Linked DNA regions of Homo sapiens: region 1 is linked to region 2. Evidence: fine-mapped expression QTL. A gene starts in region 2. The other region holds a variant in brackets. All regions are shown on one strand. Distances are between the middles of the regions. Region 1 overlaps ZNF154 (zinc finger protein 154). Region 2 holds the start of ZNF776 (zinc finger protein 776).

What was found.
Region 1: its variant is fine-mapped to the expression of ZNF776 in thyroid (GTEx, PIP 0.97).

Annotation. Positions count from the first base shown.
Region 1 is chr19:57,691,731-57,707,687 of GRCh38, reverse strand. It overlaps ZNF154 (zinc finger protein 154), which reads left to right. Exons shown (of 3, transcript NM_001085384.3): 2 at 2,709-2,835; 3 at 4,900-11,413. The coding sequence ends at 6,053. Among named protein-coding and RNA genes, the nearest start is that of ZNF154, 9.5 kb to the left of the region's middle. The variant T/C (reference allele first, on the strand shown) is at 7,012.
Region 2 is chr19:57,735,867-57,752,097 of GRCh38, reverse strand. ZNF776 (zinc finger protein 776) reads right to left here and starts at 5,283. Exons shown (of 3, transcript NM_173632.4): 1 at 5,007-5,283; 2 at 1,187-1,313. The coding sequence starts at 5,039. RefSeq lists an enhancer at 5,222-5,271.

The DNA.
Region 1 (15,957 bases), 44 kb after region 2:
AGTCAGGACTGCAGTGGCTGCCTGAGAAGTTGGGTACCTATTCTGGAGGTAATGAGAGATTTGGGTTACAAGAGGGAGGTGATCTTACCAAAGTCCTAACAGGGTCCATCCCGTTAGCGTGGAGAGCAGACTGTGGGGTTGAGGGAAGAGGAAAGAAGATCAGAGTGGAAGCTACAGCCAGTCCAGGGTAATGGACCAGAGTCATTGATTAGGAGATGTGTTGCATTCTGGATGCAAATTTTTAAAGGGAGCAACTAAATTTTCTGATGTAGACAGCGAGGGAGTGAAACAGGATTCAGCGATGACCCCATGGTTCTTCAACTGAGATGGAGAAGTTGGTATTAACAGTAATATTCACTGGAGACAACAGGAGCTTTATTTGGTCATGTAAGAGTTTGAGATGTTTCAGAGACATTAAGTAGGCATTAAGTAGGTGGCTGAACACCCAGGTCTGGAAATCTGGGGAGTGCTTCAGAATGGAGACATCCAAAATGTGGTGGTCATTGTGTGGACTAAGGTGAGTGAGCTGTGGATTACATTTAGAAGGGTTGTTCTATTTTTTTTTTTTTTTTTTGAGATGGAGTGTCTCTCTTGTTGCCCAGGCCAGAGTGCAATGGCGCGAGCTTGGCTCACCACAACCTCCGCCTCCCGGCTTCAAGCAATTCTCCTGCCTCAGCCTCCCGAGTAGCTGGGATTACAGGCATGCGCCACCACGCCCGGCTAATTTTGTATTTATTTAGTAGAGACAGGGTTTCTCCATGTTGGTCAGGCTAGTCTTGAACTCCCAACCTCAGGTGATCCACCCGCCTCAGCCACCCAGAGTTCTGGGATTACAGGCGTAAGCCACCGCATCCGGCCTACAAGGGTTAATCTTTAGGCATGGTGGTACAGGTTATTTGGCCAGGAAGGGCAGAATGGGGGCTAAGGACCAAGCCTTTTGGTTGGATAAGTGGGTGATATTCTTGGGCTTTCTAAACAGAGGTAAGGGAGGTTAGTGGCTATGGAGGTAGGGTGTTTGGAGAGGATAGTTGGGCAGGTGGCATACACTTTCAAGGGAAGAGTGGATATAAGGTGGATGCAGAGGCATAGGTGTATTTGAGGCAAATGGCTGTCCTTTTTTTCCTTTGTGCTTATTCAGCACTCTGTGGAATCACCAGGATTTTTTGATGACTTTGATGGGGCCTAGGGTGTTTATTCAACCTGGAGGATAAGGCCAGGTGCCAATGTGGTCATCTGTGACAGTCACTTGGCCTGGGGTAGGTGATCAGTGGAGCTAGTCTTTGAGTGTTAAGTGGACAGAGGAAGGTTGTTACTGCTGAGGGGCTAGCAAGTGCAGCACGGAAGTGGAATAGGGCCATGGGTATCTGAGATGCACATGTGGTTCTGTGTGGCCTAAATCTGAGGCAAAGAATGGAGCCAGCCAGGGAGCCCTCATAGGATTTGGGGCTGCTACCACTAGTGGATGCCCTGGGAGATCTAGGGTAGTATTAGATCCGTTTGAATCTGTCGAGCATACTCTGGACGCTGTGTGCTAAGTTATGGTGTAAAGTCTAAAATTAAGGCCCAGTATGACATCTGGTGAAATCAGGGTGGCATCAAATGGCCTGAGTACAAGTTTCCCTCCCTACTCTTCTCCCAAACAGACAACCCTTTTAATCAAGGAGACCAGGCACAATTTCTGCCTATCACTTTGTAGCAGATTTCAGCTCCCTACCAGGTCATGGAGTTTTCCAAACAAGCCCATTGTGGGAACCAGGGGGCAGTTGATCCTTTTGTTCTCAAAGTGCTTGCATCCCACAGTTTTTGGTTATTCACTTTTTTTCTGGACTAGACCCCCATGTGACCCTGTGTGGTACATGTTGTCCTCATCTCCCAGGTTCTATGTACATATGATTAATAAACTGCTATATCATCTTTCTTTTTTTTTTTTTTTTGAGACGGAGTCTCGCTCTGTCGCCCAGACTGGAGTGCAGTTTCGCAATCTTGGCTCACTGCAACCTCCGCCTCCTGGGTTCAAGCAATTCTCCTGCCTCAGCCTCCTGAGTAGCTGGGATTACAGGTGTGCTTCACCACGCCCGGCTAATTTTTGTATTTTTAGTAGAGATGGGGTTTCGCCATATTGGTCAGGCTGGTCTTGAACTCCTGACCTCGTGATCCACCCGTCTTGGCCTCCCAAAGTGCTGGGATTACAGGCATGAGCCACCATACCCAACTGCTGTATCGTCTTTCTAGTGTCAGGTATTGTGTGTTTGTCCATATCCATAACCCTAGTGTGGCAATCCTGCCTTCGCTAATGGGGTAAAGAGGAAGAGATTAAAACAGTGACATGGGAGGTAAGAGCAGGGAGATGCCTATGGTGTGGGCAGTGAGGTGGCAGCCCTGGGCTTGGGGCTGTGGTGTCTGGAGATAGGAGGGATGTGTATTCTGAAGAATGATGTGCATCTGGAAAGGGAGTAAGTGACAGCTGCAGGGCCCTGGTATTGAGACTTAGATGACCTTGGACATTTCAGGGGGATTTCATGATGGGATAGTATGGATCCTTCCATGCCAGGCCCCCAGCTTAGATGCCTATTTATCCATGTGCTGGTTTCTCCTCTCAGTTGGGGAGCTTGGGAAGAGAATGGGCATGGGGTAAAGATGTGGGGGTATGCATTGTGGGTCCTTGGGATAGGGGCTCTTGGTGGTTTCATCTGTTCCCATTGTGGCAGGGCACTGTGACCTTTGAAGATGTGGCCGTACACTTCTCCTGGGAGGAATGGGGTCTCCTTGATGAGGCTCAAAGATGCCTGTACCGTGATGTGATGCTGGAGAACTTGGCTCTTTTAACCTCTCTAGGTAAGGTTCTTTTACCCTTTCCTGTGCCCTGAGCTAGTCTGTGCCCTTCCTCTTTTCTCTATAGGCAGGTCTGTCCTTCTCATGACAAGACTATGGGCTCTGCTTCTTTCTCAGTTCCCTGCATAGTTCTGTCATTGGTAAGACTAAGGTGTGCATACTGTCTTCTCCTCTCCTTGAGGAGCCCCAGTACCTGTTTCCTCACAGCCTCACAGGGAAGGATTCAGAGTCTGCAGTCTTGCAGTCACCCTAGTGGATCCCACCTTGATTGTCCCCTCCATGTCTGGGTGACTTTTTCCAGATTTGAGGATCCTGTGTGCCCCAGCTACTACTTCCATCCCGAGCTGGCATTTCATTATGCCTGCCTATGCCAGGAGTTATTGTCACTGACATGGTCACTACTTATGTAGACCATGGACTCTTCTTACAAAGTATTCCTCTGAAATTTTCTTTGTAGTATTTGTGTGTGTGTGTGTTTTTCCTGTGGGCTGTCATGTGCTGAGTTTTTTGTGGGACAGTGCAGGCTGCTCTTCTGTTCTTTCTTCCCTTAGTACTTACATTATCCAGATGCTGTATCAGAGCAGCAACCTGTTCTGTTTGGCGAGCATTTTGGTGCCAATGCCAGTGGTCACAGCTCACTTCCGGTTTCCCTTCACCATTCTTGACATTTTGCTGACAAGTCAGCTCTACTACTTGTCACTTCTGCTCTTAACATCCAGCCTGGGGCTAATCCTCACATCTCTGGACTCCGTATCTTATCTGTTTTTCTCACTGCTACACCTGCAGTTCTTTCTAACGTTAGCCTCTATATAGTGTGTCATGAGGTATGCACATACTCTTTTTTTTTGAGACGGAGTCTCACTCTGTCACCCAGGCTGGAGTGCAGTGGCATGATCTCGGCTTACTGCAACCTCTGCCTCCCAGGTTCAAGTAATTCTCCTGCCTCAGCCTCCTGAGTAGCTGTGATTACAGGCGCATGCCACTGCACCTGGCTCATTTTTGTATTTTTTTAGAGATGGGGTTTCACCATCTTGACCAGGCTGGTCTTGAACTCCTGACCTTGTGATCCACCCACCTTGGCCTCCCAAAGTGCTGGGATTACAGGTGTGAGCCACTGCGCCTGTCCTTGCACATACTCTTAAACAGTCCTTGAAGGCCAGCTGCTGCATTGCAGTCGTATTTCCATGGGCTTGCATATACTATTCTACATAGCACTCATGTGTCGCCAGCAGATAAGCTTCTGCTAAAGTTGTTTGCAGAGGATTTAGTTTTAGACCCTGCCTCTCTCTTTGTGATACCTCATGGTTGTGGCCTTTACCTCTTGAGATCTCCCACATTCCTGTAATCTTTTTTTTTTTTTTTTTTTTTTTTGAGACGGAGTCTCCTTCTGTCACCCAGGCTGGAGTACAGTGGTGCAATCTTGGCTCGCTGCAACCTCCGCCTCCCGGGTTCAAGTGATTCTCCTGCCTCAGCCTCCTGAGTCCTGGGACTACAGGCACCCACCACCATGTCCAGCTAATTTTTGTATTTTTAGTAGAGACGGGGTTTCACCATATTGGCCAGGCTGGTCTCAAACTCCTGACTTTGTGATCCACCCACCTTGGACTCCCAAAGTGCTGGGATTACAGATGTGAGCCACCGCACCCGGCCCATTCTTGTAATCTTTATCCTAGAATTGCTAAACAGCCTCATCTGCAACTGAACCCAACTCTACTGTCATGCAAACGATCCCATGGACTTGTTCCTGGGTTTGTCATACACACACTTGTATAAGGGCTGCCCCCTCCCACCATAGTTAATGTGCACTTCACTAGCATTTCTTGCTTTTAGGTTTTTGGCATAGAGTGGTGGATGAGGAGGCACCTTCTGACAAGAGCATTTCTTTAGAAGGAGTGACCCAACTCAGGACTTCTAAGGCAGATCTTTCTCCCTAGAAGGCCCACCACTGTGAGACGTGTAGCCTGGTCTTGAGAGACATTTTGCTCTTGGCTGGGCCCTAGGGGACACATCATAGGCAGAAATTATATAGAGGTGGGGCATGTGGGAAATAATTGTATTTCATTGCAGATGTTCATCATCAGAAGCAGCACCTTGGAGAAAAACATTTCAGAAGCAATGTGGGCAGAGCCTTGTTTGTGAAGACCTGCACATTCCATGTGTCAGGGGAGCCTTCCACCTGCAGAGAAGTTGGGAAGGACTTCCTGGCCAAGTTGGGATTTCTCCATCAACAGGCTGCTCACACTGGGGAGCAATCAAATAGCAAAAGCGACGGTGGGGCCATCAGTCACAGAGGAAAAACTCATTACAACTGTGGAGAACACACAAAAGCATTCAGCGGTAAACACACACTTGTTCAGCAGCAGAGAACCCTCACTACAGAAAGATGTTACATATGCAGTGAATGTGGGAAATCCTTTAGCAAAAGCTACAGTCTCAATGACCATTGGAGACTTCACACTGGAGAAAAGCCTTATGAATGTCGAGAGTGTGGGAAGTCCTTTAGGCAAAGCTCTAGTCTCATTCAGCACCGGAGAGTTCACACTGCAGTACGACCTCATGAATGTGATGAATGTGGAAAATTATTTAGCAACAAGTCTAACCTCATTAAACATCGGAGAGTTCACACTGGGGAAAGGCCATATGAGTGCAGTGAATGTGGGAAATCCTTTAGCCAAAGGTCTGCACTCCTTCAACATCGGGGAGTTCACACTGGGGAGAGGCCTTATGAGTGCAGTGAATGTGGGAAGTTTTTTACATATCATTCCAGTCTCATAAAACACCAGAAAGTTCACAGTGGATCCAGGCCTTATGAGTGCAGCGAATGTGGGAAGTCATTTAGCCAAAACTCTAGCCTCATTGAACACCATAGGGTTCACACTGGAGAAAGGCCTTATAAGTGCAGCGAATGTGGGAAATCCTTTAGCCAAAGGTCTGCACTCCTTCAACATCGGGGAGTTCACACTGGGGAGAGGCCTTATGAGTGCAGTGAATGTGGGAAGTTCTTTCCCTACAGCTCCAGTCTCCGAAAACACCAGAGAGTTCACACTGGATCAAGACCCTATGAGTGCAGTGAATGTGGGAAATCCTTTACTCAAAATTCCGGCCTCATTAAGCACAGGAGGGTTCACACTGGGGAGAAGCCTTATGAGTGCACGGAATGTGGGAAATCCTTTAGCCATAACTCCAGCCTTATTAAACATCAGAGAATTCATAGTCGATAAAAGCCTTATGAGTGGCAAATGTGGAAAATCTGTTAGCACCCTGGAGAAAGTCCTTGAGTACACAGTGAATGTCAGAAAGCTTCAGCTGAAGGCCATATCTCATTGAGTGCCACACAGTTCACAAGGGAAAGACACTTTTGATATGTAGGGATGTCCAGTTGATATAACAGCTCTGAAGGAGATCCCTTATGAGGGTGGCATCAGCCTGAATTGAACATCCTATATCTGAACATCTGCATAAATTCCAGGTATGTGTGAACTGCATTGCACCTTTTGCCCTGCCCAGGGCCCATGTCAGATTTATGTCTCTGCTGATACTATAGTGGAAGCCATTTTACCTCTACTGCCTGGCAGGTGACCACCAGTGTGCACCACTCACCCATCCCAGTGTATTCAGGTAAGTGAACCTTGGTGTTCTGTTCATGGGAGGAATTTGTAAATAGCCTAAGCATTTATTCCGTTTTTTTTTTTTCCTTTCTGATGAGTTAGGCCATGGACCTGACCCAGTTTGGCCCAGAGGACTCTGCTGGTGACCTGAAAAGAGGGACTACATATTTCAGGATATTGTTGGTCTCACATGACTCTTGATAGAGTTTGCCAGCCTTCAAATCACCAACTGTGGGAACCAACTGCCTCTTATTGCCTTGGTTTGTACAATAACAAAGGCCTTATTAATCTTGGGGGTTCTATATGTATGGGTTGGTTTGAAAACAGTTGGGTTCTGCTAACATGAAGGGGTGAATAACTTTTTTTGGAGATCCCAAACATTGTGTAGCTCAACAGGGACAGGGACAGGGACAGTAGGATGGCAGAATATAGCTCTCTCTCTAGTTTGAGCCTAGTTTTCATTGCTATTCAAGGCCTCTGAGAAAAAACTACAGGGTATTGTCCTAATTTATATCCTGGATGCCATAGAGGTCAGCCTGAGGAGGCAGCAGTTACTTGACATCCTTTGATG[T/C]TTCTGAAAGCAACATGAAATTGTTCTCTTGTTCACAAGGAATACTGCATCGTGTTCAGTGCCAGTGGGGGAAATCTGTTCCCCAGGTCCTGTATGCCTTGATATCCTGAATTCCACAGGGTAGCACCACAGGTGGTAAGATTATAGTAGGAATTATAATTGTTATAGAAGTACTGGATTGATAGAGAGTGGAAAACTGCAATAACACTGCAATAAATAGAATGTGCCCCTTTTACAGAGGTTTCCATGATGTTCGTTATTATGGCTCTTAAGGATGAGCAGGTACAGAAATCCTCAGGACCTACAGAATTGTGTATCTTGTGTAGCTGAGGTCATTGTCAGAAATTTTATGGAATCCTGTAGCCTCTGGGATTTTCACCTCAAGGTCATTGCTATGCAGGCAGGAAAACAAGGATAGAGAAGGGAGGTCTAGGCCATTGATACAGCCTTTGTGATCCAGCCAACATTTCTGTTGAGTCAGGTGGAAATGGCCTTCACTGTTCACTTGTATTTGTGATCACTGAGGCAAAATCCTCTCCCAGGACATGAGGAGAGAGATGGTGGAATCAACATAGGGTTGTCAAACCTGATTTTCCAAAAACAATAGGAAATTCAGACTTTTATTTTGAACCATATTTTGTTAGGTTGGTGCAAAAGTAACTGTGGTTTTGAACCATGATTTATTTTTATTTTTATTTTTTTTTGAGTCAGAGTCTTGCTCTGTTGCCCAGTCTGGAGGGCAATGGCACTATCTCAGCTCATTGCAACCTCCGCCTCCCAGGTTCAAGCGATTCTTCTGCCTCAGCCTCCCAGGTAGCTGGGATTACAGGCACCCGCCACCACGCCCATCTGAGTTTTGCATTTTTAGTAGACATGGGGTTTCACCATGTTGGCCAGGCTGGTCTTGAACTCCTGACTTCATGTGATCCACCCACCTTGGCCTCCCAAAGTGCTGGGATTTACAGGCATGAGCCACTGCGCCCAGCCAAGCTTTTTCACCATTCCAATTTCCTTCAAATGCTGAACAGCCGTGGAATGGTTGACATTGAGTTCTTAGGCAACTTCTCATGTAGTTGTAAGAGGATCAGCTTCTAATATTGCTCTCAATTGGTCATTGTCAACTTCCAGTGGCTGGCCACTACTTCTCTTCAAGGCTCTTGTCTCCTTTGCAAAACTTCTTGAACCACCACTGCACTGTACATTCGTTAGCAGTTCCTGGGCCAAATGTGTTTATATCGTGAGTTGTCTCTGCTGCTTTACGACCCATTGGGAACTCAAGTAAGAAAATCTCAGCCGGGTGCGGTGGCTCACGCCTGTAATCCCAGCACTTTGGGAGGCTGAAGTAGGTGGATCACAAGGTCAGGAGTTAGAGACCAGCCTGACCAACATATTGAAACCTCATCTCTACTAAAAATACAAAAATTAGCCGGGCGTGGTGGCATGTGCCTGTAGTCCCAGCTACTTGGGAGGCTGAGGCAGGAGAATCACTTGAACCCGGGAGGCAGAAGTCACAGTGAGCCAAGATCACGCCACTGCACTCCAGCCTGGACGACAGACAAAACAAGACTCCGTCTCAAAAAAAAGAGGCCAGATGCGGTGGCTTACACCTGTAATCCCAGCACTTTGGGAGGCCGAGGTGGGTGGATCACAGGTCACGAGTTCGAGACCAGCCTGGCCAACATGGTGAAACCCCGTCTCTACTAAAAATACAAAAATTAGCTGGGCATAGTGGCATGCACCTGTAATCCCAGCTACTGGGGAGCCTGAGGCACGAGAATTGTTTGAACCCCGGGAGGTGGAGGTTGCAGTGAGCCAAGATCATGTCACTGCACTCCAGCCTGGGCAACAGAGCAAGACTCTATCTCAAAAAAATCGCTGAAATTTGAGTTTTGTCTAACATTTCCATAGTCTAAAATAAACATAAACAGCAAGTAGTAAGTCAGCAAAAAAACATAAAGCGAGAAATGCCTATTAAAATGATGTATAACCACATTTATTTAAGAATGTTTTCCAATATAAAATGGCAAAATCCAACATGCAAAAACGGCAATTACTTTTGCACTAACCTGATAATAATTTTAATAAGAATAAATGGTACATATTTAAACTATATAATTTGATCAGCTTTGATATTCATATTAACCTGTAATTGCTCCCACCATGCCAATTTTGAAACTGCCAACATGTTACTGAATGTAGAATTGGGAAGAGTTGCTGATAGCATCCTAATATATTCTGTTTCTACCATACTGATACAGTGGCCACGAATAACCTCAAGAATGTAGAAAATAAAATGTAGTGAAATGATTAGGAAGAAGTTGTTTCTTCACAATCATGACAATGAACGTGTCATTCCACAAGTTACCTCATTGTCCTTTAATAATTATCTGCCTATAGGCAACTATTGATTTACTTTCCATTATAATACATTAGTTTTCATTTGCTAGAATTTTATATGATTGAAACCATAATGTATTTACTCTTTTTTAATCCCTGGGTATAGTCACGTATTTATTTTGAGATTCATCATTATACCTCTATGAGTAGTTTCTTTTTTTTGTATTGCTGAGAAGTATGATGTTCTGTGGATATACCAGTATTCGTTTATTCATTCATTCATTTGTTATGGATATTTTGAGTAGTTTTTTAAAGTAGTTTGAGGTATAATGGAACTTAAAGTGCTTATATTTAAAATGCATATTTTGATATTTTCATACATGCTTACACCCTGGAACGCAGTTTCCTTCTGTCTTTTTAGTTCATTCTCAACATATAAAATTAATTTTCATTGTGTAAAATTACTGGTACAATGACATATTTTGTCTCCTGTTACAGCTGTGTTCAATTACAAAAAAAGATGGAAAAGACTGTTATGAAGCCAGATGAACCTTTCTCCAGTCTTCCTTCACTATTTTTTTTTCCTTCACCATTTATCATTTCATAGTCATTTATGTTTCATCGGTCCTCATGTGTACTAGTGCGTTATTTTACTTATACTCCCGGATATCATATTATTTAATGCATAGCCTCTTCAGAATGCAATTTTAAAATGTAAAGGCTCTTTTATAACCCCCCAAAAAATCACACAAATATATTTTAAAATGTAAATATTTTATCGCTTCTGTTTTCTCAGTTGTCTAAAACAATGTGTTTCTTAAGGAAGATCATTTTTATTCAGGATCCAAATGTATATTTAATAGCTTTCAGTAGTTGTATCTCATAAGTCTGTAACCTACAGGTTCCATTTACCTTTGTTTTCTTATTTCTTGAAGTTGCTGAGTCATTTTTTAATTAGAATTTGCTGTATTCTAGATGTGGCTTATTGAATCTCTAACATTGTTTAACTTGTACACTAGATGTTGATGAAATCGGTGATTGAGATTTTGTCCCAGCAGACAGGTGTGTGATGGCAACAGTGAAATAAATACAAAACCTTCTCCCAACCCAGAAATCCTCTCCACGAAGGTAGAGACAGAAAACGCTTTTATTAAGCATTAAACCAGAATGTGATGCACATCACAGACAATCCACTAAGAAATTGCAAGGTAAGAAAAAAGCCTCACTCCTTCATATGGCCTAGCAGATGTAGCCCATTACACACGTTTTCAAGATAAACAACAACAAGTCCTCAAATACGAATTTGACAGCACCATTTGTCACACATAGTTCATCCTAACAGGTGATGCTCTATTACCTTACTGGCTTTACCTAGAGGAAAAGCAAACATCATATCTTTATGACAGAGGATAATGAGGGGAGCTGCCTTGGGGCTGCTGGATGATACATCGGGACAGGACAGTGCGAGCTTCCAGCAAGGCAGCTCTAGTTGGAGCCCTGATTTCTTTCCAAGGTGAGGAGAGGGTGATGATAGTATCCTTGGGAAGGGGAGTGAAAAGTGCTGAGGGACTGTATTTATAGCTGAGGGATTTCCTGGGTGCTGTGGGTCTCTTGTCTTTGCCACTCTGCCTCAACACTGAAACTGTCCATTCCCTACTTGGAGGCTGCACCCAAAACCTCCCTCTGCCTTCATGCTCTGGCCTCCCCCTGCAAGTTACCACCCTGGGTCTTGGTGCTTGCAGCACTTCCGGTGCCTGGCTGCCCCAGGCCCTCTGCTCCCTCTGCTGCCTGGGTTTAATCCCTCCTCTGCCACTGCCCAGCATCAGGACTCTGCTGGTTTTGCAGCCTCTTGGTACCTCAGTTTTATGTTTGTGGAATAGGAGTGCTCACAGTACTCTCTGGGATCCTGGCAAAAGGTGTGGTAGGCAGGTGGTAAGCAGGGCCGAGCACTATCCCCAGCACCTAGTGAGTTGATGCCTTATCATTTACCTGATCCAGGCAGGTCTTAAGGTACAAGAGAAAGAGAAATGGGGCTTCTTAGAACCCCCTGACCCCACAGCTTCTACTTGGATGGAATTTTTGGAAGAAGCACTGGCTGCAGAGTCCAGAGATCTCAGTGTGAATTTCTGAAGGACTCCTTCCCAAGGAAGTGACCTTGAGAAAGTCCCCAACAACCCCTGTCAAGGACTTGACTAACAGCTTCTCTAATGTTTGTCTCCCTTTCCAATTTAAGAACAAATGGATGAAATCAAGTATGTGTCCCTAACCAATGACAGAGTAGGCCCTACTTGTAGTTAGCCTGCCTTCGGCTTCCTCAGACCCACAGACTCCAATTAGCACACCTAAAGCCTTCCCTTTTTTCTACTCTGAAGAATTCCAGCTGGGCGGCGCGGTGGCTCACACCAGGGACAGGGGCTGAGTGGGCTGGGGCGGGGCTGGGTTAGTGACTAGAGACCCTCTTTGAACCTCAGTGGTTGATTAGAATAAAACGAAGGGAAAAAGAGGCTGGGCTCGGTGGCTAACGCCTGTAATCCCAGCACTTTGGGAAGCCAAGGCAGGCGGATCACCTGAGGTCAGGAGTTTTGAGACCAGCCTGAACAACATGGAGAAACCCCATCTCTACTAAAATACAAAATTAGTCAGGTGTGGTGGCACATGCCTGTGATCCCAGCTACTCAGGAGGCTGAGGCAGGAGAATTGCTTGAACCTGGGAGGTGGAGGTTGCAGTGAGCTGAGATAGTGCCACTGCACTCCAGCCTGGGCAACAAGAAACTCCGTCTCCAAAAGGAAAAAAAAAAAAAAAAAAGGAATTCCGGCTGGGCACAGTGGCTCACATCTGTAATCTCAGCACTTTGGGAGGCCAAGGAGGGTAGATCACTTGAGGCCTGAAGTTTCAGACCAGCCTGGCCAACATGGCGAAACCCTGTCTCAACTAAAAATACAAAAATTAGCCAGGCATCGTGGTGTTCGCCTGTAGTGCCAACTGCTCAGGAGGCTGAGACGAGAATGGTTTGCACATTTCCCTGGATGCTGACAATCAAGACTACTACTTTCTTTTCTTTCTTTTTCTTTTTCTTTTTTTTTTTTGAGATGGAGTCTCCCTCTGTCACCCAGGCTGGAGTGCAATGGCACAATTTCGGCTCACTGCAACCTCCGCCTCCCGGGTTTAAGCAATTCTCCTGCCTCAGCCTCCAGAGTAGCTGAGATTACAGGCGTGCACCACCACGCCCAGCTAATTTTTGTAGTTTTAGTAGAGATGGGGTTTCACCATGTTGGTCAGGCTGGTCTTGAACTCCCAACCTCAGGTGATCTACCCACCTCGGCCTCCCAAAGTGCTGGGATTACAGGCGTGAGTCACCGCGCCTGGCCAAGACTACTGTTTTCATGTGGAGCTAATATTGACCCACTTCCTAAGGATTACCTCCTTACTTATTCCTTCTTCCCCCCAAAAAGAGTAGAGAGGAATGATCATTCCTGTCTCTTAATGTATCTGCAGTTCAGAGAGGGCAAGCAACATCCATACACGACCACAGCTGCCAAGGGTGGGAAAATATTTTAAATAGCCCATTTTCAAGGCATGATAAATCTAAGTACTGGCAGCCAGCCTGCAAATGTAACAAACCACACAGCTCATGCATCTAGAAGGTCACAATAGGTACACAGAATGTAGAGGAGGGGTCAGGCCATGAAAGGGAAGAATGTTTCATTATTGGAAATCAAAACTTAAGCAGGGAAGGGGACCGGGGTTTAACGTTATAAGGGGGATAATGAAACTTAGACGACATCTGGGAAGACTGTAACCTCATAGTACTGGACCAATGAGTATCTTGGAGGAGGGACTTGCAAGCAAGGAGATAAATTACCTGTTGTGACTACCCTAGATATGCCTGCCTACACCAGTCCCCTGATCTTGCAAGACTGTTACTGAAAGTCTCACTTTCGCTGTTCTTCGTGTCTTTTAGTCCATTCTTTGGGTTTGGATGGGTGAGTGTGTTTCTCACACAAGCAGCTGAGGTCTACGCTGAACTGGGTTGGCTTGCCTTGGTCCCTTTACTCCTCTGACTGGAAATGCAGGAGACTCTGGACAGATTCCTCTCTGCCAAGTCTGCTAAGCCCAGAACATGAGTAACCACACTGGGACACTGCCACCTGGGGCCTCAAGTCCTTCTCCACAAACTTGCTTCCCATGGTCAGCATTGCCACTGCCTGAACACCTCCAACAGGGTCCCTGGTGTCACTCCAAACACATCGCTCTCTCACAACCCCATGCAATGATTCATTCCTGGGGTCCTTTCGGTCTTCCATCTAAACACCACCATAGGATGCTTCCTCCACACCATACTGAACTGTCACTCAGTTATCAGTCACTACTGCAGACATTGGGAGAGAAGATGAAGAACTGAGAATGTCCAGCGTGACCATCGCGCGTCTCTGTACCCATGGCTTTTGCCTCCCAACCCCTGTAGCAGGTGTCCTTAGTCCCAACTGCTCCTCCCCAGCCCTGTGTAAAATCAATGACAGACAATGAGTACTAATCCCCTAGAGTGTTCCTTCTCCCACCTGTACTTGACCAATTACTTCTGAAACTGGCTGAATCTGGCTGAGCCCTCCTATAAAGCCCATAAACATCCTATTCTCCTGCTTAGGTCAAACCTGCTCACACGTGTATTTCCAGGTTGTGCTGGGGTATGAACCAGTTCCCTCATCAGTACATCATCTAGTATGCAGTGATGTGTGTAGGGAGTAGTAGTATCACATCAGGTTGTGCCTGCCTCATCACAATTGCCCCACAAAGATAGTGCAATTGTGTTTGTGGCCCACACATCAGATTTTTTTTTTTTTTGAGACGGAGCCTTGCTCTGTTGCCCAGGCTGGGGTGCAGTGGCGTGATCTCGGATCATTGTAGCCTCCGCCTCCCAGGTTCAAGTGATTCTCCTGCCTCAGCTTCCTGAGTAGCTGGGATTACAGGTGCGCACCACCACACTTGGCTAATTTTTCTATTTTTAGTAGAGACGGGGTTTCACCATGTTGGCCAGGCTGGTCTCAAACTCCTGACCTTGTGATCTGTCCGCCTCGGCCTCCCAGTGTGCTGGGACTACAGGCGTGAGCCCCGCGCCTGGCCCCACATATCAGATTTTTGGGTATCCCTAGCATATGTCCGTCCCACAAGTCTCTGTGGAGACTGCTATGGTGTGTCAGTATCTCCATCCCGTCTCACAGGATCCTTGCGTGTTTTGCACATACCTGTGTGTGTGTTTCAGGTTTGTCATACATCTTTTCTGTTGCGGATGTGGCATACACAAATGGCTCCAGGCTGTGCTGGGGGGTGTCAGTTTCCTACATCTGTCAATGTATGCCACAGATGTATGTGTATCTTGCTAGGATGTGCTGTCACTACTGCACACCTGTCTCACAACCAGCACACACAATACCTGTAATGTTTATTTCCAGGCTGCTCATGTTGTGGTAGCAAAAGGCACACTGTGTTTCCAGGTTTGTCACCAACATAAACCTGTCCACTTGGAACAGATCTTAATCACTCATTTCATCAATATCTAGTATACAGGAAATACTGGGGAATGGGGGGCGGAGTGAGCGGTGAACACACTGAACAGAATCTGAGATTTAATAAGCCAAATCAACAATGTGGGAAGTTCGTTTTGTTTTTTTTTTTTGAGACGGAGTCTCGCTCTGTCACCCAGGCTGCAGTGCAATGGCACGATCTCGGCTCACTGCAAGCTCCGCCTCTCAGGTTCACGCCATTCTCCTGCCTCAGCCTTCCCAGTAGCTGGGACTACAGGCGCCCGCCACCATGCCCGGCTAATTTTTTGTATTTTTAGTAGAGACGGGGTTTCACCGTGGTCTCGATCTCCTGACCTCGTGATCCGTCCGCCTCGGCCTCCCAAAGTGCTGGGATTACAGGCATGAGCCACTGCGCCCAGCACAATGTGGGAAGCTAATGGACAAGCAGTTTAGCAACGTTACATAAATATTAAAGAAGTAAGCAGTACGTATAGGTTAATAAACTCAAAGACACACCTACTAAACATCAAATATATTTTGTATGCTGATAGCAATCTGTCTTAAATAAGCAGCAGTTGATACAATTCAGTACTGTATATAAAACATTTATAATTTTGTACACATACAATTTTTATTTTGTATGTTAATCTTATAGTTACGAAACGGTCTTTAAATTTTAGAAATGCAATCTGAAGACTTTATGCCTTTAACGAAATATCTGATTATAAATCCACATGGGGACAGATGAAACAAGAACAACCATGAATTGCTTGATAGTTTATGCTGAAAAAAAAAAAAGAGAATGACAAAATGATAAATCCACCACTACACTCCAGCCTGGATAACAGAACGAGACCCTGTCTCAAAAAAAAATAAAAATAAAAATAAAAAAAGATAAATGATAGAAGACTGGGAAAGGGTTCATCAGGTTTTATAATGATGTCTTCCATTGATGGACATTTGTAAATAGCCCCTACAAAAGGCAGAATATGTCCTTCTATCAGTAATTTATATGTTGCAAAGGATAAATTGAAAAGGGCTGGAAGAAACATTTGGTTTTGGGAATGTACGATGTATAAAAACATC
Region 2 (16,231 bases):
GATCGAGACCATCCTGGCTAACACGGTGAAACCCCGTCTCTACTAAAAATACAAAAAAATTAGCCAGGTGTGGCAGCATGTGCCTGTGGTCCCAGCTACTCGGGAGGCTGAGGCAGGAGAATGGTGTGAACCTGGGAAGCGGAGGTTGCAGTGAGCCGAGATTGGGCCACTGCACTCCAGCCTGGTGGCAGAGCAAGACTCCGTCTCAAAAAAAAAAAAAAAAAAAAAACAAAACCAAAAATACAAATGAACAAAAATTAGTTGGGCAGGGTGGCATGCTCCTGTAGTCCCAGCTACTTAGGAGTCAGGTGGGAGGATTACTTGAGCCCAGAAGGCTGAGAATGAAGTGAACCATGATTGCATCAGTAGACTGCAGCCTGGATGACAGTGAAACCCTGTCTGAAAAAAAAAAAAACAAAAAAGCAAAAAATACTCAGGGCACACTGGCTCATGCTTGTAATCCCAGCACTTTGGGAGGATGAGGTGGGAGGATCACGTGAGGTTGGGAGTCAGAGACCAGCCTGGGCAATACAGCCAGACCTCATCTCTATTAAAAATAAAAATAAAAATTAGTGGGATGTGATGGCAGAAGCCTCTAGTCCGAGTTACTCTAGAGGCTGAGGAAGGAGGATTGCTTGAGCCTGGGAGATTGAGGCTACAGTGAGCTATGACTGCAGCACTGCACTCCAGCCTGGGTGACAGAGTTAAGACTTTGAAAACAAAACAGAACAAAACAAAACAAACAAGATAATTTATAAGGAGGGTCTTGCAAGAACAACCTATGGTGCATGTAAGTATTGAGAACATCAGTGATGGGAGGAATTCCTAGCACAGGCAGTCATGAATAAATGTCACCTAGAGCAAGGAAGTAGAACCTGTGCATACCAGTCTCTGATCTAGAAAAATTACTCAACAGCCAGAGGGCAAGCAAGGTGGGATGCATTATGGTGCCTGTAAAGCTCCTTCTCTGGGAGCTTGCAGCAAAGCAGGTGTTGGGGCTGCTCAAGGAGAGAGAGGGCAGTGCACACACCTCAGTCCTACATACCACATAGAACCTACCCAGGGAACTAACAGAGGAACCTGTGCCCAGGCTCCTGAAGTGAGGAAAACAGTCTTGCCATGGGGAAAAAAGATGGGGACAGACAGACAATAGCTGAGGTCATAGAGAAGAGTGTGAGTGCCTTACCTAGAGAAGATATAAGTGTCAGGTTCTCCAGCATCACGTCATGATAAAGGCATCTCTGAGCCTCACTAAGGAGACTCCATTCCTCCTGGGAAAAGTTCACAGCCACATCTTCAAAGGTCACAGTGCCCTGCCGTGATGATGACAGATGAAACCACAAACACTCCATATGCTCATCCACTTATCCACCCTTGCCCTTCCTCCTCCCAAGGTCCTAAACTACAAGGAGAAACTAGGCCCACTGGTGTCACTATCTTCTCATGGGCTCACTGGTCATGGTGTACAGCCATCAGCCACAAGAAGTGGGTGAAACAATAGATTTCTATGTTTTGGTGCTGATATAAAGCGGTCCATAACTTCCTGATAGCCAATGCCCCTGGTAGAGATGAAGTCATGTAAATCCCAATGCAGCATCCTCAGTCTATCAGACATACTCCTTCTCTAAATACACATCATTCCTTTTTTTTGCTTTTTTTTTTTTTGAGATAGGGTTTCACTCCTGTTGCCCAGGCTGGAGTGCAATGACATAATCTCAGCTCTCTGCAACCTCTGTCTACTGGGCTCGAGTAATTCTCTGGCCTTAGCCTCCCGAGTAGATGGGATACAGGTGCATGCCACCGTGCCGGCTAATTTTTTTTTTTTTTTGTATTTTTGGTAGAGAGAAGGTTTCACTATGTTGCCCAGGTTAGTCTCGAAATCCTGAGCTCAAGTGATTCACCCACCTCAGCCTCCCAATGTGCTGGGATTACAGGCATGAGCCACTGTGCTAGGCCAAAATACACATCATTCTTTAGACTGCACAGACACATGCCCATGGCCACCCCCACTAAACTGCCTCCCACATTGGCCTCTGCCTCCCCACAAGTTAAAGTATGTTTATACCCTCTTCTTCCTTCTACCAGTAAGGGTGAGATTTTCACCTTACAGTTATATTAATGACCAAACACATGACATCAAACACTAGACAGGTGCTATAAATATGTTTAAAAATCAAATACACTCAAAGTCTAGAAGAGGACATCCCTCATCATGAAGGACCACATAGGGGTTGCACTATGGATAAGAGTGCATAACCAGAAACTATGATATGCAAGCTTTTAAAATGAAGAGGGTGTGATGACCCCCGAATCCCTTAGGAGGATGCAACTGGCTTGTTTGAATAACACTGTGGGTAAGGATAAAATTGAAACTCACTACAAAGTATAATAACCAGGAATTCTGCCTGGTCTCCCTAATAAAAGGATTATTAGGCCATGCTGATTATTATCTAAAAGAGCCTAGTGGGAAGGGAATTGGTTCTCAGGTCATTTGAGGTCATACCAATATCACTAGATGTCAAGGTGACACATCATATTGGGCCTCCATTTTTGGCTTTATACCACAATATGGCTGACAGCATCCAATATGCTTCACATATTCAAACAGGATCCAATAATAACACAAAATGACCATGGTTCCCATTAGCAGTGGTAGTCCCTAATAATTCTATGAATGCCTCCTTGCATTACTCCACATCCATGCAAAACCACATGTAACTTCAGATATCCATGGTCTTATTCCACTTCTGTGCTACAATGGCTTACCCTTCAGCAACACGGACCAACTTCCATTCACCTAATACCATTGCCATTTAAAGAGCAGTCCTGGATGGGCATGGTGGTTCACACCTGTAATCCTAGCACTTTGGGAGGCTGAGGCAGGTGGATCATGAGGTCAGGAGTTCGAGACCAGCCTGGCCAATATGGTGAAATCACATCTCTACTAAAAATACAAAAAAAAATTAGTGGGGCGTGGTGGCACGCAACTGTATTCTCAGCTACCGGGAGGCTGAGGCAGGAGAATCACTTGAACCTGGGAGGTGGAGGTTGTAATGAGCCAAGATTGCGCCACTATACACCAGTACACCAGCCTGGGCGACAGAGTGAGACACCGTCTCAAAAAAAAAAAAAGTCCTGTTTTTAATCCATTTAAGGCCCAAGACCTACTGTCACAGATGACCATATTTCTCCCTGAGCATATTCAGCACGTGTAATGAAACCCCCCACACACTACCAAAGTCATCTCAAATCTTGATTGCACAGAGTGGTGAATAAGTACCACTCTGGCCTAAGTGTCATCTTCCCTCAATTTGACTACACTTCTGCATATATCTATTTCATGTCTATTCTCTCCTTGAAAGTCTATGTCCCCTGTCAAATTATGCTGACAGGTATACCCTACCATCATGGTCACTTACCTACCTCTCCAGTGTTTAGGAAGCCCAGTAACATTACCCAGGGACCCAAGCAACAGATGCAGTCCTCATCATTCAACCACTGCTTTCTGGTCCCCTAAAAGATTTACCACCAGAATCTGAAGTGTGTTCTCCTTAATGTGACCCATGGCTCACTCACCATAGCATACACATTAGCTACCATATATTAGATGTCTCCAGTGTCAATCCCTTTCCAGATACCCCAACCTGCATGTCCATAGCCATTTGATGCCTACACTTATTCGTCTCTGACTCTTCATATGGCCATAACAGTCATCCTGATATTTGCATAATATTCTAATTATGTTTATTACCAACATGCTCATCTCAGCTGATGCAGCTTCCATAGCTACAGCTACTAAGACCAAAAACCTCGGGATCCTGATTGCTCTCTTCATGCCCTTACTTTGTGTATTAGGAAACCTAGATGCTGTAACAAAATATCAACTTTGAATCCAGCCACATCTCCTTAGCCATGAATCTTAGTCTGTTAACCCTCACTTGGATTACGGCAAAAGCCTCAACTCTCATCTTATTTCCTCCTCTCTCAACCCCACAGTCTGTTCTCCACTGTACAGCCAGAGGAGACTACAGCCAGATGAAACTGTGGCAACATCACCTCCTCCCTCTGGTCAGTTTCACCTCTAAGCATTTCACATCCTGGTACTAACTCCTGGGTTAACCTTCCAAGTATGTTTATACTGGTTGACAGAAATGGGAATACCTCCATATATCCTGTGTCACAGACTTTGGATCCTGGGTTTAAGGTTCCTCCAGGGTTCCCATATCAAAAAACTTAAAAAAAAAAAAAAAAAGGTACCTAAGAATCCCAGGACATCCCAATCTAAAGAGCATGTGGATAGGAGTTAGGGCCAGTGAGGGAATAACACCCTCCGCTTCCCTGCGGAGGTTCTGCAAGTGCTTCTGCAGCCAGGAGTTCCTGAGAGGAGAGGCACAAGCTACAAGAATGTATCCCTGATGAGATTTGATAAGCTCAGGCCTCCCTGAACTCTTTCTTGGCCCTGTAACTAGGTAAACGCGAGTTGGTTGTCTGAACTGAGCGCCTCAGTACAAAATGTCATCTCTTAGCACCTATCTGATCTGTAGAGGTTGAACAAGAATTCAACCTCCCAGGGCCCAAAAGTCATCCCCTGTGTTCTTTTTCGACTGGACTTTGGGAAACCTTTAAAGCCTGGACATTGATCTTTTCCTTCCTTTGTTGGAAGCTGTCCATGGCTTCCAGCGTTCTCAGGGTGAATACACGGTCCTCAGCCTGCTCTTCCAGGAGGAGCTCTGCCTCACACTTTGCTCCCGACAGGTGCCTGTGGACCCTAGGTTACGATCCTCTCGGCTCAGTTCATCTCCAGGCCTTTGCCTGCACCGCTCCCTGTGCCTGTAGCTCTCCTGAGCGCATCCCGCGGGTGTCAAAAACGGGGGCCCATAGAGAGCGCCTCAGTGTCCCGACGCCGGGTTCAGGGTGTAAAACCTTGAGCAGGCGCCGCTTCCTCTCTGCTTTTGGACTTAGGTAAAGATGAGGTGACCTGAGGGCACGGAAGACGCCACAATTACCTGAGCCGGGGGCCTCAGCGCGGCCGCCGCCATCCGACTGGGTGGGGAAAGCGGGGTCGAAAGGAGGGGGCGAGCAGTGCAGGTACCCGGGCACGGTGGTCCCGATCCCGGCCTTGGTGCGGGTCACGCCTAGCGCCTTTAAGGAGCTGCAGAGCAGCCTCTGTGCAGTCGGGACAACGTCTCGTCTCCACCTTCTGGGTTCAGTCACTTCTACACGACCCAACACTCCGCGGTCTCTCACTGGAAAATACACCCAACACCAATCAAAATGGCCACTAGTAGAGGACGCCGGAAGTCCCACCTTTATACTGTTTCCGCGGAAACGCCTTTATTTTGAGCCCTCATTGGCTCTGACGCGCTGTCATTCGACGCAGAGATTTCTGGGTTATGTAGTTTCCTCAGGTTCCAAGACAGTTCCAAGGCGGTAAAGAAGGCCTTCTCAGAGGCGCTTGATTGCACAGAGTGGTGAATAAACACTACTCTGGCCTAAGTGTCATCTTCCCTCAATTTGACTATACTTCTGCATGTATCTATTTCATGTCTATTTTCTCCTTGAAAGTCTATATCCCCTGTCAAACTATGCTGTCAGGTATACCCTACCATCACGTTCACTTACTTGCAGGAAAGGCCCAGCTCCATCTCAGCGGCCTGTCCTTAAAGTGCATGTCCTTCTAGGGTAGAGGATAGTCTCACCTAGCCTTAGAACCCGTATTGAGATTTTTGGAGATTAGTGTCTGTAACTGATCACTCAAGTATTTGAAAAAATATTATTTTAGATTTTGGGGAACTCGAGCTCTCCGATGCTAAACTTATTATTTAGGATGCCCCCAAAGACTAAAAATCCAAATTATCATAACGTTTTGAACAGTCTTTCAGTCGCAAAATCCCGGTACTGGCAGCAGAGGCTGATAAACATTATTGTGTTATAAATTCACATGAATGCACTCTGAGGCATTAGAGTCAGTTTCTCAGTCTGTCAGGGACAAGAGAGAACTAATCCAGATAGGACAAGACAAGGAAGATAGAGGAGAAATGTTGTGTTCCCTAAAGCAGGAATACATGCTGAATCTCTGTCTGTGATTCCCACAGAAGACAACTCTCCTGCCTATAAAATCAATCATAGTGTCCAGTACATTGAGCAACACTTTTATCCACTTAGTATCCCTCGCTTGAGATTCCAACTTATATTCAATTAATTCTGGATTAATTTATCTAAGATTTATCAATCTTACAGGAAGACCAATGAAAGAAATGCTATTTTGGTAGTGATAAATGGCTGCAGTTTTCAAAGGTGGGGCACGTATGCAGAAGATGCTCTCCACCTGTTGATATTGGTTGTGTCTTAAATCCAGGAGTTCATGTTATTGCTGGGAAGTGGCTATTTTTTTTTTTTTGTATTAGATAAAACAGACTTTATTTATTTCTTTTCTTTTTTTTTTTTTGTGACTATTCTTTATTTCTGTTTCCATGGCAAGGAGTGTTTTGCCTAATAAATTAATGTTATGGATGGGATTACAGGCATGAGCCACCATACCTGGCTAATTTTGTATTTTTAGTAGAGACGGGGTTTCTCCATGTTGGTCAGGCTGGTCTCGAACTCTCAACCTCAGGTGATCCACCTGTCTCGGCCTCCCAAAGTGCTGGGATTAAAGGCATGAGCCACTGTACCCAGCCGCTCAGTTCTTAAAAAACCTATGTCTTCTATGTTCAGGGAGAAGAGGCATTTAGAGCAAGAGCTTACTCATTCTCCATTTCTGCTCAGAAATAAAACTTGCTTGCCTTTTTTTTTTTTTTTCCCAAATTGGGTGTTCTTTTTTTTGTGACCAATACAAAGTAGGGAAAGAACTCAGTTTATTGGTAGTACAACTTAAAAAAAAAAAAGCATGTTTAACATTCCAACTTTCATAGTCCTGTCAACTTTTACTTTATGTTGTAGTCCCAGGACTCTTCTCTCCAGACCATTTTACCCTTTCTTGTGCAGATGTCTTCAGGTTTCCACCCAGGGTTCAGGCCAGGAGACTTTGGCCTTTTTTCCAAGTGCTACCTTGATTAACCAGTCTAACCATCACCCTAGGCATTCCAGGTGGGGTTTCTCATTATATCTTTACCTTCTGGCTTTTAAAATTTATCCAAACTTCAGGAACTACAGCAACTTAGCTTAAGGCCCTTTAATGTTGGGGGATCAACAGGAACTTCCTTTGGTCCACCCAACCTTCAATAGTGTTATATTCAGAATTTTGTTTTAATCCGATCAGTTTTTATTTTATTCATCTAATTTCCATCTAATAGCCATCTAAAGATTTCCACCATGCTGGGATGAGTATCATGATTTCCCCCTTTTCTTTTTCCTCTTAGTTTCATTCCTATCCATGTTTTCTTTATTTGTCTTATTTCTTTATAACTATTTAAAAATTTCTACCTTCCTGGAAGGAGCTGTTTGACTCTCCCCTGTACCTTTCATCATTGTCTATCTTATTAATTAATCTAATGGTTTTATTAGCATCTGAAAGGCCCATAATAGGAAGCAAATTTGGTAAGACTGACTATAGCTCAATTTTGCAGCAGTAAGTTTACATAAGGTGCCCAAGAAAATGGGGTTCCCCAAACCAAGACATTTACCATGACCTGGGTAATAAACATATTCAGTAGGTAAATATTCCTATCATCATAATGCCAGTTCCACATGGCTTGCATGGGAAGCATATTAAGCTGGTTCATCTGGGGAGCCCCACTTGGCATTTATAGGGGGAGTCAGACAGTCCCGCTTTTCCGAGTAGACAGACTTCAGAGTAGCTTTTATACACCCACCCAGGCTGGCTGTTCCTTCAGGAATAAACTCTTGTGTGTGTGGATGATACATACCTATCTGCAATTGTTGAAGAGTGACCTGTAGGTACTACATCAACCCAAACATGTTCTTCCACTCTGCATTATTTAAAACCAAAGATGTTTCCCCTAAGTTAGTTATTCTCACTATCCATGTTAGTAAAGGTTCCTGAGGAAGCTGACGATACTGGTCTATAAAATGAAACAATTCCTCCACACTATTGATATAGAACCAGGCCTGTTCTGTCCATCTCACAGTATGCCAATCACTGAGATGATGAGTCTTGCAGCAGAGAAAGCATGTATTTACAAGGCTGCCAAGTGCAGAGGTGGGAGAACAGTTCTCAAATCTGCCTCTTTGATGATGGGATTTAGAGATATTTATGGGATAAAGAAGCCTGTCGGCCGGGCGCGGTGGCTCATGCCTGTAATCCCAGCACTTTGGGAGGCCAAGCCAGGCAGATCACAAGGTCAGGAGTTTGAGACTAGCCTGGCCAACATGGTGAAACCCCGTCCGTACTAAAAATACAAAAATTACCTGGGCATGGTGGCGGGGGTGGGGGCACCTGTAATCCTAGCTACTCAGGAGGCTGAGGCAGAAGAATTACTTGAACCCGGGAGGTGGAGGTTGCAGTGAGCCGAGATCGCGCCACTGCACTCCAGCCTGGGCAACACAGTGAGACTCCATCTCAAAAAAAAAAAAAAAAAATTGACCTGTTCTATCTCCAAAGTATGCCTGTATAAAGTTATTGATGCAAGAACATATTGTACCTTTTGTAATGGATTTTTCCAAATATATACACAAATACAAAGGACTATGTAATGAAGTCCCATGAATTCTTCCTCAATGATCCATTATTATTTATCATTGCATGGTGGTTTGTTTTTTTTTTTTTTTTTTTGAGACGGAATCTCGCTCTGTGACCCAGGCTGGAGGAAGTGGCGTGATCTTCGCTCACTGCAAGCTCAGCCTCCCGGGTTCATGCCATTCTCCTCAGCCTCCCGAGTAGCTGGGACTACAGGCGCCCGCCACCACACCCGGCTAAGTTTTTGTATTTTTAGTAGAGATGGGGTTTCACTGTGTTAGCCGAGATGGTTTCGATCTCCTGACCTCATGATCTGCCCGCCTCGGCCTCCCAAAGTGCTGGGATTACAGGCGTGAGCCACTGCGCCCGGCTTTTTTTTTTTTTTTTTTGAGACAGAGTCTTGCTGTGTCGCCCAGGCTGGAGTGCAGTGAGGCAATCTCAGCTTACTGCAACCTCCACCTCCTGGGTTCAAGCAATTCTCAGGGCTCAGCCTCCCAAGCAGCTGGGATTACAGTGCCATTACGCCCGGCTAATTTTTTTTTTTTTTTTTTCTTTGAGACGGAGTTTTGCTCTTGCTGCCCAGCGTGAAGTGCTATGGCACAATCCTGGCTCAACACAACCTCTGCCTCCCAGGTTCAAGCAATTCTCCTGCCTCAGCCTCCCGAGTAGATGGAATTATAGGCATGTGCCACCACGCCCGGCTAATTTGGTTGTGTGTGTTTTTTTTTTTTTTTTTTTTTTTTTAGTAGAGATAGGGTTTCTCCTGTCTCTACTAGAAAAAAAAAAGGGTCAGGCTGGTCTCCAACTCCCAACCTCAGGTGATCCATCCACCTCGGCTCTCCAAAGTGCAGGGATTACAGGCATGAGCCACCACATCTGACCGATTATCTATTCTTAAGTGTATTACTATGCTGTTTTACTTATAATCCTGATATCTCTCATTTTTGTTATTTTTGAGACGGAGTTTCTTGCTCTTGTTGTCAGGCTGGAGTGCAATAGCACCATGTCAGCTCACTGCAACCTCTGCCTCCTGGATTCAAGTGATTCTCCTGCCTCAGCCTCCCTAGTAGCTGGCTAACTTTGTATTTTTAGTAGAGACAGGGCTTCTCCATGTTGGTCAGGCTGGTCTCAAACTCCTGATCTCAGGTGATCCACCTGCCTCAGCCTCCCAATGTTCTGGGATTACAGGCATGAGCCACCATGCCTGGCCTCTAAATGTTATCTTGTATGACAGCATGATATATAGGCACATAAAAGCAAGATGCTTTAGAAATGTAAATAAAAGATTATAAATTACAAATGGCAATGTAATCAGGGATGTAAAGAATCTCAATACCTAAATGTTACCTTGCATGACAGCAAGTTATATAGGCATATTTCATCTTCACTATCAGTAATATTTTGCTTTCTTCTTTCTAGAAATATCTGTGATGATTCTTAATCAACATAGGACTCTACAGTAATGTCTAGAAGTTTAAAATTGTGTGTTCCAATTATATTATGACTACACACACTGGAAGGTATATTTCTATCTATTGTGGAGTAAAATTTTCTTGATTATACCCTGCTTATGCTCCCACTAAACCTTTGTAATCAGCAAATTTAAAAGCCCAAGTCTCTGAGTAGCATTTGTGCTTCTGTGTGGCCAGTATGACCCCACCTCCATTCTGTCTAACAGCCCCTTGGGGTTCTGAATATGCTGGTTGTGTGGATCACATCTCTCCCTCTTGGGTTTGTTGTCAGTGTGGTATATATTTATGTCGGCTCAGGCTGTCAATAGGTGCCAGTACCCAATGCCTCTTACACAGAGTCCTATAGGTATAACAGGGGCACCTCTAGGATGGACTGAGATTTTTTTTTTTTTTTTTGAGACAGGGTCACTCTTTTCCCCAGACTGGACTGTGGTGGCATGATCTTGGCTCACTGCAACCTCCGCCTCCCTGGTTCAAGCAACTCTCCTGTATCAGCCTCCCGCATAGCTCGGACTACAGGTGAGCGCAACCCATGGCTAATTTTTGTATTTTTAGTAAAGACAGGATTTCTCCATGTTGGCCAGGCTGGTCTCAAACTCTTGACCTCGTGATCCACCCACCTCGGCCTCCCAAAGCGTTGGGATTACAGGCGTGAGCCACCGTGCCCTGCCGGACTGAGGTCTTTAAATACTGCACACCTGTCACACAGGGTCCCTGGGATATGTGTTTTGTCTATAGGCTGTGCTGCAGTATAACCCTCAGGCACTTGTCACACACCAGGAGCATACACTCTTTGAAATTTTTGCTTCCAGACTGTACCACAGCATGCTGGGAGAATGTAATCCAACTGTGTGTTTCTGGCTGTGTCATAATCACACACTTATGTGGGACTACCCCTGAATCACCCATTTCAAGAATATCTAGTTTGCTTATGGCTTATACATGTGTAAACAACTTAAATCATATCAGAGATATGCACAAAAAATTAGAGTATAATAAATTCTAATACAAAAATTACACAATTTCAAGAAATAAATAAAATTTTGGCCAGGCGCGGTGGCTCACGCCTCTAATCCCAGCACTTTTGGAGGCCAAGACGGGTGGATCATGAGGTCAGGAGTTCAAGACCAGCCTGGCCAAGATGGTGAAACCCCGTCTCTACTAAAAATACAAAAATTAGCCGGGCGTGGTGGTGGGCGCCTGTAATCCCAGCTACTTGGGAGGCTGTGGCAGAGAACTGCTTAAACCTGAGAGGCGGAGGTTGCAGTGAGCCAAGATTGCACCATTGCACTCCAGCCTGGGTGACAGAGAGAGACTCCGTCTCAAAAAAAATAAAAAAATAAAATAAAATTTAAGGCCAGGCATTGTGGTTATGTATGTAATCCCAGCACTTTGGGAGGCCAAAGCAGGTGGATTGCTTGAGCCCAGGAGTCTGAGACCAGCCTGGGCAACATTGTGAAACCCAGTCTCTACAAAAAATAAAAAATAAAAGCTTAGCCAGGCATGGTGGTGCTTGCCTGTAGTCCCAGCTACTTGGGAGGCAGAGGTGGGAGGATCACCTAGCCCAGGGAGGTCCAGGCTGCAGTTAGCTGTAATTGTGTCACAGCACTCCAGCCTGGGTGACAGAGTAAGACCCTGTCCCACACCCCGCACAAAAAAGGAATTTTAAAAAGGAAAGTCATACCTGTAGATTAATAGAGATATATGAGACAGAACTACTAAAAGTCATGGGGATAAATTTGGGAATTTCTTTCTTTTTTTTTTTTAATTTTTGTATTTAGTAGAGACAGAGTTTCACCATGTTGGCCAGGCTGGTCTCAAAATCCCAACCTCAGATGATCCACCCGCCTCAGCCTCCCAAAGTGCTGGGACCACAGGCGTGAGCCACCACGCCCACATTTGGGAATTTCATTGCAATGAAGCTGCTTAAAGAACAAAGATATTTTTGAGACAATAGAAAAAATGGACGATGATAACATATTTTGTTATGCTTTAAACATTTCTGATGGAACCAGTTGTAGGTGTTATGAAAGAGCCCTTGGACTTTGGAAATACCCTGTGAAGAGATTATGCATTAAGCGATGTCAGGAAGCTGGGCGCTGTGGCTCATGCCTGTAATCTCAGCACTTTGGGAGGCCGAGGTGGGTGGATCACCAGAGGTCAGGAGTTCTAGACCAGCATGACCAACATGGTGAAACCTTGTCTCTACTAAAAATACAAAAATTCACTGGGCGTAGTGGCAGGTGCCTGTAATTCCAGCTACTAGAGAGGTGGAGGCAGGAGAATCACTTGACATGCTGGGATTACAGGCGTGAGCCACCACGCCTGGCCTAGATTCTTTACATATCTGATTACCTTACTATTTCCAATTTACAATCTTTTATTCATGTTTCTGAAGTGTCTTTCCTTTCACTAATGGGAGAGGAAGTATTAACTCTTTCACTCATCAAACACAAGTTAGTAAAATACCAGAGACTCAATTTGCAAATCATGCCCCCAAAAAGACAAAAATGCATAACCAAAAAATGTTATAAAGACACTAAATGGCCACTCAAATACTTTAAACAGTCTTCTTCATTTCCCACTGGTAAAGATCTTACAGTGGACTTTGTGAGGCTTAATATTTTCAGTCAGTAATGGAAGGAAGAATATTCAAAGAAGGTTTCAGAGGAAATATAGAGGAGAGGCATAAGGCAAGGAGAGGAGGTTGCACCATGTCTCCAGGTCCCTCAGAGTATGTCTCAACCTCAGAGCAGAACTGGTTCCTTCTGATTGTAACACTCTGTAGGGACCAGCCCCACAGGGTCGGTGGGTCTCTCCCTGTGTGCGGTGACGAGAGAGTGTAGAAATAAAGACACAAGACAAAGAGATAAGAGAAAAGGCAGCTGGGCCCGGGGGACCACTACCACCAATGCGCGGAGACTGGTAGTGGCCCTGAATGTCTAGCTGCACTGTTATTTATTGGATACAAAGCAAAAGAGGCAGGGCAAAGAGTGTGAGTCATCTCCAATGATAGGTAAGGTCATGTGGGTCATGTGTCCACTGGACGCGGGGCCCTTCTCTGCCTGGCAGCCAAGGCAGAGAGAGAGAGGGAGAGAGAGAGACAGCTTACACCATTATTTCTGCATATCAGAGACTTTTAGTACTTTCACTAATTTTGCTACTGTTATCTAGAAGGCAGAGCCAGGTGTACAGGATGGAACATGAAGGTGGACTAGGAGCGTGACCACTGAAGCACAGCATCACAGGGAGATGGTTAGGCCTCCGGATAACTGCGGGTGGGCCTGACTGATGTCAGGCCCTCCACAAGAGACGGAGGAGCAGAGTCTTCTCTAAACTCCCCCCGGGGAAAAGGGAGACTCCCTTTCCCGGTCCGCTAAGTAGCGGTTGTTTTTCCTTGACACTAAGGCTACCGCTAGACCAGACTTCCCAGATGCTGGCATCACCGCTAGACCAAGGAGCCCTCTGGTGGCCCTGTCTGGACATAACAGAAGGCTCGCACTCTTGTCTTCTGGTCACTTCTCACTGTGTCCCCTCAGCTCCTATCTCTGTATGGCCTGGTTTTTTCTAGGTTATGATTATAGAGCGAGTATTATTATAATACTGGAATAAAGAGTAATTGCTACAAACTAATGATTAATGATATTCATATATAATTACATCTATGATCTAGATCTAGTATAACTCTTGTTGTTTTATATATTTTATTATACTGGAATGGCTCATGCCCTCGGTCTCTTGCCTCAGCACCTGGGTAGCTTGCTGCCCACAACACTCACCTGGGAATAGTTGGTATTTACTAATTCACATTTACAAAACCGTGGCTGGAGTGTCAGCATTCCTGCCATGGGGAAAGTGGATATTTGAACCCTGAGAAAAGATTCTGGGTACAATAATCTCACCTTCTTGCTGGGAAGGAACTATCATTTCAGCAGTAAGTACAATGATAGTTTCGGCATGGGGACTGGAGATTACCTCTGGAAAACAGCTTGGACTGAGAAAATTAGTTAATATTGTGGATAAATGAAGTTACCACTGAGAATGACATAAGTAGCTAGAAAAGTTTCTGTGAAGTCTGAGAACACATAAATCTCAATGGATAGTGAGCAGAGGACATGGGGCTGTAAGTTCTGAGATAATTAAGTGGAGCCCATGGCTATCCTAGAGACTTGACTAACATGAAATTCTTATTTCTACAAAGTGTGTATTATTTCAATTTCTGAGAACTCAGGAAAAACCAACTGAGAGCCAAGGAAATAGTAAGGTAAGACTAGAAAGATGTCATAGAACAGAAAGAAAGCGATGGTGGCATCATATTGATTCAATGTCTTGGAATCTGCATCTTGTCACCTGGGGACACATTCTTTGATACAAAATGGAGGACCAGCTCATAGCTCCTGTGGTATTGAAAAACAAGTACTCCGGCCAGGCGTGGTGGCTCACGCCTGTAATACCAGCACTTTGGGAGCCCGAGGCGGGCGGATCACGGGGTCAGGCCATCGAGACCATCCTAGTCAACATGGTGAAACCCAGTATCCACTAAAATACAAAAAAATTAGCCAGGCGTGGTGGCGCACTCCTGTAGTCCCAGCTACTTGGGAGGCTGAGGCAGGGGAAATCACTTGAACCTGGGCGGAGGAGGGTGCAGTGAGCCGAGATCGCACCACTGCACTCCAGCCTGGTGACAGAGCAAGACTCCATCTCAAAAAAAAAGAAAAAAGAAAAAAAAAGTATTCCTTACAGTAAAGGAATGATATCACTGAAGAATATATTAGGTTCAAATATGTCTTTGTTTTACTTTTTCTTATTTCTTATTGAAATGGAAATAGAAAAAAAATTATTTTAGTATCAGGGTAATACCAACCTTGTATGATGAATTTAGAAGTATTTTCTCCTCCTCTTATTTTTGGGAATAGTTCGAGTAGGATTGGGGTTAGTTCTTTAAATGTTTGGTAAAATTCAGTAGTGAAGCCATTGGGTCCCAGGCTTTTCTTTGCTGGGAAAATTTTTATTACAGCCTCAATCTCATTGCTTGCTATTTGTCAGTTCAGGTTTTGGATTTCCTCATAATTCATCTTGGTAAGTTATATGTGTCTAGGAATTTGTCCATTTTTTCTATAATTTCCAATTTTTGGCATACAGTTGATCATAGTAGCCTCTAATGATCCTTTGAATTTCTGCAGTATTGGCTGTAAAGTCTTCTTTCTCACTTCTATTTTATTTGGTTTATCTTTCTTAGTCTGGCTAAAGGATTTTTTATTTTGTTTACTTTTCAAAAAACCAATTTCTCGGCCGGGCGTGGTGGCTCACGCCTGTAATCCCAGCACTTTGGGAGGCCGAGGTGGACAGATCACGAGGTCAGGAGTTCGAGACCAGCCTGACCAACATGGCAAAGCCCCGTCTGTATTAAAAATACAAAAATTAGCCGGGCATGGTGGTGGGTGCCTGTAATCCCAGCTACTTGGGAGGCTGAGGCAGGAGAATTGCTTGAACCCAGGAGGCAGAGGTTGCAGTGAACAGAGATCCTGCCATTGCACTCCAGCCTGGGTGATAAGAGCAAGACCCCATTTCAAAAAAAACAAACAAAAAACAAACAAACAAAAAAAATCATTTTGTTGAACACATTTGTATTGTTTTCTTTGTTTCAGTTTCATTTATTTCTGCTCTAATCTTTATTATTTTATTTTCCTTTTTTTTTTTTTTTTTTTGAGACAGAGTCTTGTTCTGTTGCCCAGGCTAGAGTGCAGTGGCGTGATCTTGGCTCACTGCAACCTCCACCTCCCGGGTTCAAGCAATTCTCCTGTCTCAGCCTCCTGAGTAGCTGGGACTACAGGTGCCTGCCACTACGTCTGGCTAATTTTTATATTTTTAGTAGAGATGGAATTTCACCTTATTGGTCAGGCTGGTCTCGAACTCCTGACCTCCGGTGATCCACCTGCCTCAGCCTCCCAAAGTGTTGGGACTGCAGGCGTGAGCTACTGCGCCCAGCTATTTATTTTCTTCTACTCACTTTGGGTTTGGTTTGCTCTAGCATCTCTAATTCTTTAAGATGCATTATTAGGTTGTTTATTTAAAGTTTTTTTTTTTACTTTTGTAATGTAGGCACTTATAGCTATAAACA